Linked DNA regions of Homo sapiens: region 2 is linked to region 1. The links come from fine-mapping of genetic effects on gene expression. A gene starts in region 1. The other region holds a variant in brackets. All regions are shown on one strand. Distances are between the middles of the regions.

What was found. PIP is the estimated chance that this variant, and not a neighbour inherited with it, causes the effect.
Region 2: its variant is the best candidate, but not a certain one, in a credible set for the expression of MTPN in skeletal muscle (GTEx, PIP 0.88).

The regions. Positions count from the first base shown.
Region 1 is chr7:135,974,697-135,980,079 of GRCh38, forward strand. It overlaps MTPN (myotrophin), which reads right to left and starts at 2,663. Exons shown (of 4, transcript NM_145808.4): 1 at 2,333-2,663. The coding sequence starts at 2,404.
Region 2 is chr7:135,805,471-135,810,853 of GRCh38, forward strand. No RefSeq gene overlaps it. Among named protein-coding and RNA genes, the nearest start is that of FAM180A, 59 kb to the left of the region's middle. The variant A/G (reference allele first, on the strand shown) is at 2,936.

The sequences.
Region 1 (5,383 bases):
TGTTTCTTTAGTATTTTCTTTGTACACACCTACTCAGATAGATGCACATTACAGAAACTCAAAAAGTGAGTGTTCACAAATTGGTAGATGAAAAATGTGAGTCAATAAATAAGCAGGGAAGACAGCTGTGGGGCAGAAGAAACTGTAATAAGGACCTGAAAGTATAAATGGGCACCGTAAGGGAGCTGAGTCAGTATAAACTTCAGTTCTTGTTATTATTTCTCATTAACAAAGTGAAAGATACTTTATGAAATCTTCAAAACTAAGAAAGGATAAAGCTCAATGCTCTGTACATCAGATTACATTACAGTTACAGTCATATCTTTTTGGATAGTCCAACTTTCAATACTCCCTTTTGCTTTTTCTGAATGTCTACCCTCCCTCTTATGCAAATTTTTTACATTAATGAAGAACAGGCTACGGTAGTAATATAGGGAAAATAATCAAATTGAACATGATAACCTAACCTAATTATAAAACTAATTGGAAATAAATTAATCCATCTTTATTGGCATATATTTTCATATAAATATTTTTGTGTAGTTGAGAATTCTTTGGGCACAATTTACCTGCCTGAATGTGGACCCTGGGAATGTCCTACTAGAAATCTTGGTATGATACGCTTTCACAATTAGATCTTAGACTGAGAGATAGTGCGTGGAGCAGTTAAAGAGTTTCAGTTTTGGAGTCAGCAATTTAGTTCTTGCTTCACAATTTACCATCTCCATAACTTTTCTTAAGTATCCTGCATCTCAGTAATCTGTAAAATGGGACCAATAATAGGACTTACTTCCCAGTATTCACAAGGATGACATAAAATAATGTGTCAGGAAAACACTAAATACATTGTGTTATTTTGGTAGCTGTAAGTTCAGTTAGTACTTAATCAACTTTTTGTATTTCAAGTATATCAAACAACCTAGGTTCCACCATGACAGGAAAACAAAAGCCCACTTACTTCCAGAGTATTGCAGTGTCCCACCACTGGTAAGTGTACCAAATAATTTCTACCTTTTAGCTTTATATTGAAATAGCCAATAAGTCAAGTTTCAGTTGGCTACCAGCTGAGAAGGCAGTGACGAGAAGACAGCCTGTCCTAAAACTCCACTGCAAAAAACTAAGCAGGTAAGCAGCATCCAAAAAGTCTAAATTGTAATGGCATTAAATAAAGTAAAAACCTTCAGCAGTTTGCCTTGCACAATCCTGTAAGTTTTAAGAAACTGCTTCGCTTACTTGCTTCCTAACACAGCCTCTGAAGCAAAAACCCAGGTCAGGTCCTATTCTTTGAAGAGTTAAAATCTAGACTGGGTTCTCACACTTTTAGAAGGTGAGCAAGATGCCATCCGTGGTTGTCATAAAATTATACTTGTTTTGGAAGATTCATTTTAGATTATCACTAAATTAAAATCACATGTTAAGTTCTCTCATAATTACAAAGGCACAGTTTCAGGATGGAAAGACAGGCTAGCTTGGAATTTTAAGTTTCCCACTCTGCCACAATGTCGATTCAGTTTTATATTTGGGGCTGAGGTTTGAGTTTGTCTTTCTTCATCATGATTTTACCCCCCAAATACACTGCCACTAAACTGCATTGCTATTTACTACACATGTAAGCATTTCAGGTGAAATCAGGGAGAAGAATGGAATAACTGAAGTTAACATGCTTGTTTAAAAACTATTCAGATACCTTAAACATTCCCAGATGCCAGTTGACAACCTTACCACTTGAAGCAAATATGTATTTGTTGTGGTGGGGGAAAGGAAAAAGGCCACACCCAAAGTTAAGACACCACAGTGAAGTGATACTCAGTTTCAGAATTTTAACTATTTCTATTTTCGGTACTCTTTTCACGGTCAATGAATTCTTCAACTTCACACCAGGCCGAGAGTTAAAAAACATGTTCCTCTGATCCTAATTACTTAGGTTACTTCATTTAGTAATGGGTAAGTCCAAGATGGAGAATTACCTCATTCAAAGAAAGGTTTAAGTAACTTTGGTGTAGAAGAGGGCCAAACTCAAATGATCAGTGCGCAGAAGAAACTCTGGATGAGCCAGACACCACTCCTCCCCTCCCCCAAGAGGCCAGGAAGTCAGGTAGCGCCTAACTGTATTAACGCAGCAGTTACCTGACACAGAACGCTACCAAGTTACCTGGACCCTTCTTTCAGTTTAGCTCCTCCCTAGACGCCCCTCTCTCCTTGGTGCCGCCTCCACCCAGGAAGTCTCTCCTCCCGCCCACCCCCATCCCCGCAGTCCAGCTCCCATCAGCTTCCTCAGCCTCATCTCCAGCCCACCTCCGTGTTCTCGCCTACTCTTCTCATCCCCGCTTACCTTGGCCACATAGTCTTTCACCTCATCCAAGTCTCCGTTTTTCAGGGCCCACATGAACTCCTTGTCGCACATCACTGCAGCGGGGCAGGCCGGTTGGCCGGGCAGAAGATGAGGAGGCGGTGGCAGCAGCAAGCGGATGCCGCCGGGCGAGAGGGAGGCAGGGCCGCGCGAAGCCGGAGAGGAGAAGAAGAGAAGGAGGGTTAGGCTGCCAGGCGGGCGAGGCAGTTGGCCGCGGCGACCGTTCGGGCGGGAGAAAGAAAGTTCTTTTGCGGCCACCGGGCCCAGCAGAGAGGTTCCGCCTGGCCGAGGAGAGGCAGGAACCTTTACACTTCCGGTTCACTCCCCGCTAGGACCCTCCCCCAACTTCCTCTTCCTCTTCTCCTCCGCGGAACGCCTCTCTCTGGGTCCGCGGCGCGAACGCCACTAGTGCGCATGCGCAATGTACAGGCTGCCGGGAAGGCTAGAGTGGAGGGTAGGAGCCGGCGACAAGTGGGCGGGACTGGGAGGCAGAATGAAGGAGGCCCGGGGGAGGTCAAGACAGCGAATGGAGGAAGAGTGAGAGTACTTTCGATGGGATTAGGACGCTTCTGCACCACCATTAATGGGAAAAACTTTACTTTTTAAAAAACATAATCTTGGAGGGCATCTTGCTCAGCTTCTAAAAATGTATAGGAAGAGTGTTTAATTTGAATTCCTTCTTCCTTGCCTTTTCCCCTTCCCTCCCTCCTTTTCACCCCTCCCTCTCTCCGTCATCCAGTCTGACTGGGCTAAAAACGATGGAATAACGCTATTCCTGCCCTCCAGGAAATCTTCAACACTAAAACTACAATGTAAATTGAGTGTGTTAACACTATGTATAATGTTCCCTGGAGCAAAAAACTTAAGTGTGTGGCAGGAAAAAAAAAATTAACTCATCTTCCTGACCAGCAAATGACGTCCAGGCATTCAGTTTGATGCCGTAAAGTGGAGCAAACCAAACTGTCTAGTACAATTTGCGTTTTTTAAATTTACTGTTTGTTTTTAATGGTTTGAAACTTCAGGACTGTTCTGGTGAAGTCAGTTCTGTTCTTCCTAGGGTTTAGTTGTAATGCCATAGTGCATAGCTACCACTTGAATTGTTCCTCACAACCCTAATGATCCAGGCATGCGCACATGAACATAGATCCAATAAAAGCTCTTATTGGAGCTAGAAATATACGTATAATATATATACATATATAACTATTACTATATATAAAACTCATATATATAATCTATTATTTGTAACCCACTAAACACATTAACTAAGCTACTTTACCACCATTGCCGTACAGTGTAGGGGTTCCAAACAGACTCTGGAGCCAAATTGTTTAGTTTGCGATACAGGTCCCACTTCTTGCTAATTTTGTGTCTTCTTGGGCAAGTTACTGAACCCCCTTCTGCTTCAGTTTTCCACTTGTGTAAAATGGGGATGTCAATAGTGTTTGGAAATGTATTTTTTTTTTTTTTGCTATCATTTAGAGTAGAATAGCAAATGGGTTTCAAATCAGAAGAAATCCCTCCAAATATTAACATCTACCTAGATTGTCATTTGTTAATTTTACTCCCTGATAATTAGAAATACAAATCCACATACCCAATAGTGATACGATTTCTGGAAACAAATCTCAAGGGGGAATTTGTTAGGCAAGTCCTAGAATCTCCATCTCTTCTCCAACACACTCCCACCTGTGTGATTTCTGAGTTACATCATGCTGAGAGCTCTTGATTTATATCTTTGGCCGGGTGCAGTGGCTCATGCCTGTAATCCTAGCACCTTGGGAGGACAAGGCTGGAAGATCGCTTGAAGCCAGGAGTTGGAGACCAGCCAGGGCAACAAAATGAGACACCATCTCTACAAAACACAAAGATTAAAAAAATTAGTTGGGTACAGTGGCGGACTTCTGCCTTCCCAGCTACTTGGGAAGCTGAGGCAGGAGGATTACTTGAGCCCTGGAGTTTGAGGCCACAGTAAGCTATGATGGCACCACTGCATTCCAGCCTGGGTGACAGAGCAAGATCATCTAAAAAAAAAATCTTTAACTAGACTTTTCCTATGTGATCTATTCTTATATTTAACTTCTTACTCATTTGGATTTCTCAAACTTAACATGTCCAGAATAGGATCTGGTCTCCTGTAGATGTTAAACCTAGTTGTCCCCCACATATCTCTGTAAATGGCGCTGCCAACCACCCTATCACTAAAACCAGAAACATGGGAGTCATAATCACTCTTCCCATTCTCAACTTTTCTCTTATTCAATCCATCAGTAAATATTTCAAAATATGTCTTAAATTTGTTCATTTCTTGCCATCTTCACTATTACTACTCCCTGCACCCTCACATATCCCCCATCCCTGTCACTGTCATCTCTGTCTACACTGCTATGATGCTATGTGCTATGATAGCCTCCCTGTTGGTGTCCTATTTTCACTCATCCTTTTCTAGATAATTCCCCACTTTGGGAGTTACTCTTTTAAAACTTAAACATGCACTTGTTGTCCTAAGGCCTTTCAAAGGCTTCCTATTGCAGGTAGGTTAAAATCCTAACTACTTGATATGGCCTTCAGGGCCTTCTGTGCACTGACTGCTGATGGTAGGTGATAGTATCTCCTATCTCATGACAGTCCCTTGCCACCCCCATTGTTTCTTTGATTTTGAAATATCTTGTCTTCTGTCAGTTTCAAGCTAAACCAAGCTCATTCCACCCTAAGGCCTTTATGCTTCTTGTTTCTTCTCTGGAATGTTCTTCATCTAAGTCTTGTTCACTCCATCTGACTTTTGAGGTTTCAATGCAAACCTTCAGAGAGACCTCCCAGACCACCCACTTTAAATAGGTCCTTCAATTACTTACAGGGCCCAGCTTTTCCCCCATTTACAGCACATGTCACAAGTATTTTAATTATCTTTTTTGTTTACCTATTTTGGTAAGTATTCATGGTGTTAAACAAATAATTCCTTTGTCTGCCATTCTGGGCACAAGAGAGAACTGCTCTTCCTGGCTTGTAGTTGAATAATATCATGTAACTAAT
Region 2 (5,383 bases), 170 kb before region 1:
CTCACTGCAATCTCCACCTCCCAGGTTCAAGCAATTCTCCTGCCTCAGCCTCCTGAGTAGTTGGGATTACTGGTGCCTGCCACCATGCCTGGCCAATTTTTTGTATTTTTGTAGAGATGGGGTTTCATGATGTTGGTCAGGCTGGTCTTGAACTCCTGACCTCAGGTGATGCACCCACTTCTGCCTCCCAAAGTGCTGGGATTACAGGTGTGAGCCACCTCGCCTACCCCCTCCAGCCCTTTTATAAGACACTAATCCACTCACGAGGGCAGAGCCCTCATGGCCTAATCACCTCCTCAAGGCCCCATCTCTTAACAGTGTTGCATGTTTGAATACGAATTATGGAGGGGACACAAACATTCAAACCATAGCAATGGCTGTCACAATTATCTAGAATTCCCGAGAGTCTCCTCCAGACGAAGTGATTTAGACTTGGGAAGTGAATTAAGGGGAGAAGGAAGATGATGGTAGACACCGAGGTCCCTTTTGGTGAACAGTTTGTTTTTCCCAAAGGCAAATAGAGATTCCAGTTTGGGAGTTTTGATGAAAGGCAATGGTCTGAGGAGAGATACAGGAATTCTGGGTCAAGGGTTCCAGGTGGGTAATGAAGGGGTACAATTCAGGGGCACCTATGTGGAGGTACTCATATTTTAGATGCTCTCCTTTTGGAGCCTGGGAAAGTCCTATTTACTTGGTGCTCAGCTTTATCCCTTTCCCTCATGTAGACGTTGAGTTCATTCTTTTAACTGACCCAGTTCTTGTGAGACGTAGCCCTGCGTGGCCTGGCATGGAGAAAGTGGGGAGATGGATGGTCAGAATGGAGGGTTATGAATGCAGCTCAGCATTCACAGGGAGTTGCAGTTTCTTTAATTTTTAGCTTTATGATTTTACTTCAGTGAAAATCTAAAACTGTTAATCTAAGATCTTCTGACTAGCCATTCTTTAACCAAAATTTGTCATAATATTTTTGTGCTTGCATTTGTACTTTTGTGCCCAAATCCCATTTGTACCAGGTAAAAGACAAGAAATCACAGTGGCTGCACGGATGAAGCTTTGGAGTTTCAGATAAGGAGATGAGGTAGAACTTTGTCATCTCGTAGCTTACTGTGGTGCCGGGATGCTGAACACCAAAGGATCTGCACCATTGCAGTTTCACGTACAAATAGATACACTGTGTGGCTCGACTGTACTTTGCAACTTGCAGTTCATTAAAAATAAATATAGGAGGCCAGGCGAGGTGGCTCATGCCTGTAATCCCAGCACTTTGGGAGGGCAAGGAGGGTGGATCATGAGGTCAGGAGTTCAAGATCAGCCTGGCCAACATGGTGAAACCCCGTCTCTACTAAAAATACAAAAATTAGCTGGGCATGGTGGCACATGCCTGTAATCCCAGCTACTCGAGAGGCTGAGGCAGGAGAATTGCTTAAACCGGGACCCGGGTGGTGGAGATTGCAGTGAGCCGAGATCACGCCATGGCACTCCAGCCTAGGCTACAGAGCGAGACTCCGTCTCTAAATAAATAAGTAAATAAGTAAATTTATAATGAATAGTTTTTCTTCTAATACAGGTAATGATGAGATTAAATTTAAAGCAGATGGAAGAGTGTCATAATGTTAATCTTATCTTCAACGGAATGAGACAGCTTCATGGTGTTATCAGAAGATCAATCACTGAAATAGGCATTTGAGGATTACATGTGGGGAAGTTTTGGTTAAGTATAAGTATGAGGTCTGATTATTCTGAACTAGCAGACAAAGCCTTGAAACCATGAATATAACTTTGAGCAGTTCTTTTATATGAACAGGCCCTCTCTGAATTAGTATTATAAAAGCCAAACTACAACACGAATTAAAGAAAGACCTGAGGCTTTTCCTACTATTAAATCCAAGACTAACAATTTTGTTGCAGCAAAACAGTATCATTAAATTAATGTTAATTTGAATATTGATTTTTTTCAGAAGGCTTTTTTTTTGAGTAAGTAATTTATAAATTTTATTTGGTATTTATTTGTAAATTAAAAAATTATTCCAGGTTTCATATTTATACACATTCGAGTAACATGACAATTTTTAAGTGAAACTGGAAGGTTCCTGAAAATTTTTTCTTTGAATACAGTATTCATTACTCTAATTTGAGAAAAACTGTGGCTGGGGAGAAAGGTCTTTGGGTTTCATACATATTATTGGCATCATAAATTTGTTTCATTTTCTTTTCCTGTTGGTTTTATACAAGATATACTTGGCTCCCTAATTACTTAGTAGGCTTCTTTTGTATACCCCCAGCACCTGGCACAATACTGGGCACATAATAGCTGTTGAAAAAATATGGCTAAAAGGGGGGTGGTCTGGGCACTGTCTGAGTGGATGAAATAGATTAAGATTGGAGTAAAATAGATTGGAAATGGATTAGAAAGAAATAGAGTAAAATGCAGCCCTCTGTTGCAAAATTCTCTAGCTAGGCTGTAAATTCTGATATATCAGGGCCTTTATGTCTCCCATGGTGCTTAAAATAGAGGAGATGCTTGGTCAATGCTGAGAAAGTAGGAAGGTTTTTTCTTCCCCAAAAGGAAGAATAAAACAAGCAGTGACCTGCACAGAGCCCTACACATGTGCTTCCGTTGAGATCCATGGCTGCTGTACACCTCAGCACACAGTGTGCCTCAGGCCTATACTCCTGAGTACCCACACTCGCACCCCTACTCACACACAGAGATACGCACGCTCTTTCTTTCTTTGCAGGGCAGTGTGATGGTCTAAAGTAGAACACTGCCTGTGATCAGGTAGGCCATTGGAAGGCTTGTCCCCAAATGGCCTCCGCTGCATCTGGAAATCTGACCTGACCAGCTCAAAGGGAGTAATCTAATCCTGGTCACATTTTCAGTGAGTTCTCAAGTATCAGCCGCTTTCCTGATGCAAACCCAGGGCTGAATTTCCCC[A/G]TGAACTAGCCCAGGCCGGCCAACTATTTCCAAACGAGAACACAGCTCCTGCCAGTGCAGACTTAACAAGAACTTAAGTTTCTGGGGCAACTCAGCCCTGCTGGAGATTCATTATCCCACTGTTAGTTAAGGGGCAAGCAAGCCTTGGCTGGCAAGCCTGCTAGGAGGCCAAGAAGTGGACTCTGTGGCATTTTATAATGATGGGTAAACAGCAGAAAGAAGACTCCAGCTTCTCCCCGCCCACTGGAACTCCAGAGCTTTGGGTCATGTCTGGTGGTAGGTCAAAGACCACCGTGGGTGGTGGGGCCCAGGAATCTAAGTTCTTAACAAGATCTCTAGATGATTCTGGCATACTAAAGTTGGAGGAATCCTGACTGTATTAAAGCTATCCATGCTGTTGGCCCTTCTTATATGGCCCAAGTTCAGAATTTCTCCCCTCCCTTGGTGAAGGACCCTGTGATGGCTCAGGGCCACCCAGCTAGGCCTGGGCATAGAGCCGTGGCCCATTAACCTCCTTCCACCGCCGAACCATTTCTTGTTTGCTGTTGCAGATTTTCAGGCCATGAAGAGGAGAGCTGCTCTGACATTTATGTCTCACTCTCCCGATTTAAAATGTCTTCATCACAACCAAAGACTCACCCTTTCCTCCCGGCCTCCTCTCTGTCTCTGCAGCCGATGGCTGCATTTCTCCCTCCTTTGTGCAGCAATCACATGCCTGTCGTGGAGAGAGAATAGAGCCAAAGTGGCTGCAATATCATATCTCTTGCCTGTGTTATAAACTGCAAGACTTGTCTGGATCACGGGAACTATTGTCGACATTAGCAGGCCAAGGGCACGGAGCCAAGGACGGCTCCCTTCTCCAGCATAGGCTCAGGAAAAGCACAGATTAGAAAAAGGCCCAGAAGAATTCTGTCCCTCCTTTCTTCTCGCTTGTGCATTTTAATCCTCCCCTTCCCCATCATGTCAGCGCATTCTGGACTTGAAATGAACCTAGAAAATGTGTATCATAAAATATTTGACTGACCAAGGGCACAGATTGCTATATCTTCCTATTTACTTATTTATTTTGAGACAGAGTCTCGCTCTGTCACCCAGGCTGGAGTGCAGTGGCACAATCTCAGCTCACTGCAACCTCTGCCTCCCCGGTTCAAGCAGTTCTCCAGCCTCAGCCTTCTGAGTAGCTGGGACTACAGGCACGTGCCACCACGCCCGGCTAATTTTTCTATTTTTAGTAGAGACGGGGTTTCACCATGTTGCCCAGGCTGGTCTCAAACTCCTGACCTCAAGCAATCTGCCGTCCTTGGTCTCCCAAAGTGCTGGGATTACAGGCGTGAGCCACTGCGCCCAGATGCTGTATCTTCCTATCCTTAGGCTGGTCTGGCATCCTTAATAGCAGAGCCCCTTTCTCTGTACTTTAAAGCTGGTGAAGGAATTTGGCATGATCATGTTCTTAACTGAGTGGTTAAGAAGGGCAAATACAGCCATTCTAGAAAAAAAAAAAAAAACAAACAAAACCCAACCTGATAATGAGGAAGACAGGAAGACAGATGAGGCTTTGCTCCTGAGGTCAAGACAGCTAGATGGTTTAGTAATTTTAACACAGAGAGAGCGTGCATTTCCCTTTTGTTTTCTAACTCGGTCTACCAACCAGGTAGATTTCAATGTGCATTCAACAAATTGAGCACCTACTGTGGCTCTGTGGCTCTGCTTAACCAGTGGTTTCTTTCTTTCTTTTTTTTTTTTTAATATGGAGTCTTGCTCTGGTGCCCAGGCTGGAGTGCGATCTTGGCTCACTGCAACCTCTGCCTCCCAGTTCAAGCAATTCTCCCTGCCTCAGCCTCCTGAGTAGCTGGAATTATAGGCATGTGCCACCACGCCCGGCTAATTTTTTTTTTTTTTTTTTTGAGATGGAGTTTTACTCTTGTTGCCTAGGCTGGAGTGCAGTGGCATGATCTCGGCTCACTGCAACCTCTGCCTCCTGGGTTCCAGTGATTCTCCTGCCTCAGCCTCCCAAGTATCTGGGATTACAGGTGCCCGCCACCATGCCTGGCTAATTTTTTGTATTTTTAATAGAGATGGGGTTTCACCATATTTACTAGGCTGCTCTCAAACTCCTAACCTCCGGTGATCTACCTGCCTCAGCCTTCCAAAATACTGGGATTACAGGCATGAGCCACTGCACCTGGCCAACCAGTGATTTCTAAAGCAGGCTTCTCATTGGAATCACTGGGGAAGCTTTTGAAAAATACAGTTTCCTACTCTGAGATTTTCAGTCAGTCAGTCTGGGATGAGGCCCTGGCATCTGTATCTTCATTTAATTTGAAAAGCACAACCCTATACTTTGGTCAGTGCTGTGGGGATACAAAATGGTTAGAACTCTCCTATCGTTTTAGAGCAGCGAACGGTCTGTTGGGGTTGGCAATATTAGACACCGTAGTGTTATGGTCC